Regions from separate parts of the Homo sapiens genome. Here region 1 is linked to region 2. The links come from fine-mapping of genetic effects on gene expression. A gene starts in region 2. The other region holds a variant in brackets. All regions are shown on one strand. Distances are from middle to middle.

Region 1 (2,500 bases), 27 kb after region 2:
AGATGGAAAAAGAGAGATGGGCAGAGGGAGATCAAAAGCGAGAGATGGGAAGAGACAGATCAAAAGCGAGATGGAGAGATGGAAAGAAAGAGATGGGGAGAGAAAGATGGAAAGAGATAGATGGAAAGAGAGAGATGGGGAGAGAGAGATGAAAAGAGAGAGAGGGAGAGAGGTGGAAAGAGAGAGATGGGGAGAGAGATGGAAAGAGAGAGATGTGGAGAGAGAGACGGAATTCGAGAGATGGGGAGAGATGGGGAGAAAGATGGAAAGAGAGATAGGGAGAGAGAGATGGAATTAGAGAGATGGGGAGAGATATATGGAAAGAGAGAGATGTGGAAAGAGATCAAAAGAGAGATCGAAAGAGAGAGATGGGGAGAGAGAAATGGGGGAGAGAGATGGAAAGAGAGAGATGGGGAGAGAGAAGGAAAGAAAGAGATGAGGAGGGACGAGGAGAGTCATTTTAAAGAATTGGCTCACGTGACTATGGAAGGCCGACATGTCCAAAATCTGCAGGGTGGGCAGGCAGGCAGGAGACACAAGGTAGAACTGATAGTGCAGCTTGAATCCAAAGAGAGTCTGAGGCCAGAACTACCTCTTTCTCAGGAGACCTTAGTCTAGTTTCTCTTGAGGCCTTCAACTGATTGGATAAGGCCCACCCACATTATAGCAGGCAATCTGTTTTACTCAGTCTACTGATTTAAATATTAATCTCATCTTTAAAACACCTTCATGGCAACATCCATGCCTCATGTCTGGGGACCATGGCCTAACCAAGTGGACATGTAAAATGAACTATCACAGTAGGTAAGAGGCAAAGTAAGACAGGCAAGTAAAGGCAGCCAATGAGGTAGGTACCTGAGTGAGCAGCTTGCTGTTGGGGTACCTGGGGCTCAATCTCACTGAGCTGTCCCATTCGAGAAGAGGGAGCTAGGACGTCTGTCCATCTGCTCTGATCTATCATTGGTGGAGGGTTGCTCCGGGGGCTGAACTTTCAAGCTCTTCCAGCCTGTCCTCTGTGCAGGCCAAACACAAATTCACGCCCATGGAAGTTCCCAGGCAGAATCACCGATGCTTACAGCAGAATTAATCAGCATATTAAAGAAACCAAGAATGCCAGGGATTCGAGCCAGG[G/T]TGCCCACCGTACCTACAGCCTTTGTAGGAAGAAATAGATTATTATTCATTGTCTCAGTGTTACCAGACTTTGAAGTTTCCAGAAAATGCAAAAAGTGGGTTGTTTGTAGGAAAACATCTTTTTTTTTTTTTTTTTTGTCTTTGAGATGGAGTCTCACTCTGTCACCCAGACTGGAGTGCAGTGGCGTGATCGCAGCTTACTTCAGCCTCCGCCTCTTGGGTTCAAGCGATTCTCCAGCCTCAGCCTCCCAAGTAGCTGGGATTACAAGCATGTGCCACCACAACCAGCTAATCTTTGTATTTTTAGTAGAGACAGGGTTTCACCATGTTGACCAGGCTGGTCTTGAACTTCTGACCTCAAGTGATCCACCACCCCCTCAGCCTCCCAAAGTGCTGGGGTTACAGGTGTGAGCCACCATGCCCGGTGCCAGCACTCTGTTAAAACGAATCCTCCAGGGATCACAGGATTTAAGCTCCATCTGAGAACAACTCTTCTAAAAAACGGCAGACCGGGCATGGTGGCTCATGCCTGTAATCCCAGCACTTTGGGAGACCAAGACATGTGGATCACCTGAGGTCAGGAGTTTGAGACCAGCCTGGCCAACATAGTGAAACCCTATCTCTACTAAAAAGACAAAAAATTAGCCAGGCATGGTGGTGAGTGCCTGTAATCCCAGCTACTTGGGAGGCTGAGGCAGGAGAATCACTTGAACCCGGGAGGCGGAGGTTGCAGTGAGCCAAGATCACGCCACTGCACTCCAGCCTGGCTGGGCGACAAGAGCGAGACTCCGTCTCAAAAAAAAAAAAAAAAAAAGAAAGAAAAGAAAAGAAAAAAGATTCCATCTTTCTGTTTCCTCAGGTCCCAGTGCCATTGCCTTTATCTCATATTCTTCTCTTGGAAACATCATAAATGCAACTTTTTTTGAAGAGATGGATAAGAAAGATCAAGTGTATCTGAACTCTCAGGTTGTGAGTGCTGCTATTGGACCCAAAAGGAACGTGTCTCTCTCCAAGTCTGTGACGCTGACTTTCCAGCACGTGAAGGTGGGTCACAGGTATGATTTGAGCTTGTGGGTTCTCAAGGAGGCAGGCCAAACGATGTGTGTATCATCCCAGGCTGTGGTTCTAGACCCACTCTGTTCAGGGTCGTAGTCAGGAGCACCTGTCGCTATTGAGCATTTGAAATGTAGCTGGTCTGAATCGAGATTTTGAAGACAGTATTTCCAGATTTACATCTTGTAAATCAGCCTTTGAAGACTTAATAAGAAGAAAACAATTAGCTTGATTTAAACCAGGCAGGTTGGCATGCTCCTATACTTCCAGCTACTCGGGAGGCTGAGGCAAGAGGATTGCTTGAGCCCAGGAGTTG
Region 2 (2,942 bases):
CTCAAGCTCGGCTATAAAACCCCATGTATTTCACCACGAGACCAGAAGACTCACTTGGGAGCCCCTCTCTCTCTGCAGGATAGAGCTTTTCTCTTTTTTCTCTTCTCTTGCCTGTTAAACTTCTGCTCTGAAACTCACTTTTTTTTTTTTTTTTTTAGATGAAGTCTCACTCTGTCACCCAGGCTGGAAGGAACTGGCGCAATCTTCGCTCACGGCAACCTCTGCCTCCCGGGTTCAAACAATTCTCCCGCTTCAGCCTTCCGAGTAGCTGGGATTACAGGCATGCGCCACCATGCCCAGCTAATTTTTGTATTTTTAGTACAGACAGGGTTTCACCATGTTGGCTTGGCTGGTCTTGAACTCCTGACCTCAGGTGATCCGCCCGTCTCAGCCTCCCAAAGTGCTGGGATTACAAGGGTGAGCCACAGTGCTCGGCCTTAAATTCACTTCTTGTGCATCCGCATCCTTGATTTACTTGGCATGAGAGGATGAACCCCAGACAACAACACTGCTTCAGTAGGAAGTCTGGTGTTTTAAGTCTAATGAAGAGCTTCAGAAGAGTTTTAAGCAGGGGAGCCGGGTGCAGTGGCTCACACCGGTAATCTCAACACTGGGAGACTGAGGCAGAAGGATTGCTTGAGCCCAGAAATTCAAGACAAGCCTGGGCTACAAAGCGAGGCCCTGTCTCTCTTCAAAAAAAAAAATAAAAACTAAAAAAAATTAGCCAGGCGTGGTGGCATGCACCTGTAGTCCTAACGATTCAGAGGACTGAGGTGGGAGGATCGCTGGAGCCCAGGAGTTTGAGGTTGCAGTGAGCTATGATTGTGCCACGGCACTCCAGCCTGGGTAACAGAGCAAGACCCACATAAATAAATAAATAAATATTTGCTGGAGGAAGGGTAGATTTACAGACTTTTTCTCCCAAGTCCTGTGACTGGTTAGGGTTGGTCCAAATAACCAAATAATGTATTACCTTCTATGAGACTTTGGGACTCTTAACTTCTTATGGCTCAGCAATCATAACCAGTAAGTATCATCTACTGGGGGAAGAGAAAGATATGTTAAAATGACTCCTCTGGAAACTTCAGATACCAACACAGACACCCTAAAATCTGGTTTACTCACCTCAAAGCCACAGGCTTATTTAAGATTTATTTTGGCCCCAAAGGCACTTCCTAATCCTCAGACAATGTGATGTAACTTTCAGGGCATTTCCTCGTTAGGGTTTACCAACTCAATCATCCCAAAGGTGATCAACAATAGCTAGGCAGAAAAGGTACAGCAAATAAACGAAAAGCAGAACCATGAGTCTGATGGCGAAAGAGGGGAAGCAGTTTGCTTTTCTGATAGCAATTTCATGAGTCAGCTGACCTAAGATACATACTTCAATTCTCATGGGATTTCTTGAGCTAGGAAAGGTGGTTGGCTTACGGCACAGTAGAGAGCTTCCAGGGCTGGCTGGCGTGGGATACCCGTACCACAGAAATGCAGGGACCATTGCTTCTTCCAGGTATGTGTGACTGTAACAATGACTGAGGCTTAACCTATCCCCCAGTCAGGGACCACTTGGTTCAACAATTGGTTATTTTCTCCTCCTCTTTCTTCTGCTCTGAACACTCTCACCTTTTCCCTTTGGAGTGTGGTTTCCTTCCTGACTACCCTATTCAAAGTATGCTCTCGAATATCCCTAAAATGTTCCTATCCAATCTAGTAGCTTGGTTTTTTGTTTGTTTTGTTTGTTTGTTTTGTTTTGTTTTTTGAGACAGAATCTCACTCTGTCACCCAGGTTGGAGTGCAGTGGCGCAATCTTGACTCACTGAAACCTCTGCCTCCCGGGTTCAAGTGATTCTCCTGCCTCAGCCTCCTGAGTAGCTGGGATTACAGGCACACATCACCACACCTGGCTAATTTTTGTATTTTTAGTAGAGATGGGGTTTCACCATGTTGCCCTGGCTGGTCTCGAACTCCTGACCTCAGGTGATCCACCCGCCTCAGCCTGCCAAAGTGCTAGGATTACAGGCATGAGCCACCGCACCCGGTCTCTAATACGTTGTTCATCTTCCTCTTGGCAAGTTTTGTTTTCTAATTGATGTCTTCTCCTTCTTGATAACTTCTGCAAACTAGCCCTGCCCTGACTTTTTTCCTTTTTCTCTTGCTATTCTTTCTTCTCCCTCCTTTATCATTTTCCTGTGACAAGAAAATAAATGATAATTTTATTATTAATTTTAGAGGTCATTATATTAAGTGAAATAACTCAAACACCAAAAGACAAATGCCTCATGTTCTTGTTTATCAGTGGGAGCTAAATAATGTGGACACATGGACATAGAGAGTAGAATGATAGACGATGAAGACTGGGAAGGCTGAGGGAGTAGAAGGACAGTGGAAAATAAGAAGTTACCTAATGGTTACAATGTACATCATTTGGATGGTGGATACTCTAAAAGCCCTGACTTCACCACTATGAAATCTATGCGTGTAACAAAATTACACTTGTATCCCATAAATTTATACAAAGAAAATAATGATAACCAACATTTTTGAAAACTCACTATGCACCTTACATGTATTAATCTGTTGCATCATCAGTATGCTCATGGGGTATCCTCATCTTACAGATAAGAAAACTGGGGCACAGGTTATGTTATTTGTCCAACATCACACAGCTAGTAAATAAGAGAGCTGGGATTTGAATCCAAACCATCTGTCTCCAGATCTTTGCTATAATGCTCCTCCCACAGGATCCTTACTGGGATCTTCTGTTTTTCTACTCCCTCTCCCTATGGGAATCTCCTAATTCCATGGCTTCAACCACCATCTCTGTACGGATGAAATCCCATCCATCTTTCCAGCTCCAGATGAATTAACAATATTGATAGTCCCAATATCAATCAAAGCTTACATTTATTAAGCAGCTACTTTAGCCTGGCATTAGGCTTAAA

The links. PIP is the estimated chance that this variant, and not a neighbour inherited with it, causes the effect. A credible set is the group of variants that fine-mapping cannot tell apart.
Region 1: its variant is the best candidate, but not a certain one, in a credible set for the expression of ADGRE3 in whole blood (TOPMed, PIP 0.73).

What each region holds. Positions count from the first base shown.
Region 1 is chr19:14,646,856-14,649,355 of GRCh38, reverse strand. It overlaps ADGRE3 (adhesion G protein-coupled receptor E3), which reads left to right. Exons shown (of 16, transcript NM_032571.5): 8 at 1,991-2,175. Among named protein-coding and RNA genes, the nearest start is that of SNORA104, 26 kb to the right of the region's middle. The variant G/T (reference allele first, on the strand shown) is at 1,132.
Region 2 is chr19:14,673,314-14,676,255 of GRCh38, reverse strand. It overlaps ADGRE3 (adhesion G protein-coupled receptor E3), which reads left to right and starts at 1,412. Exons shown (of 16, transcript NM_032571.5): 1 at 1,412-1,510. The coding sequence starts at 1,486.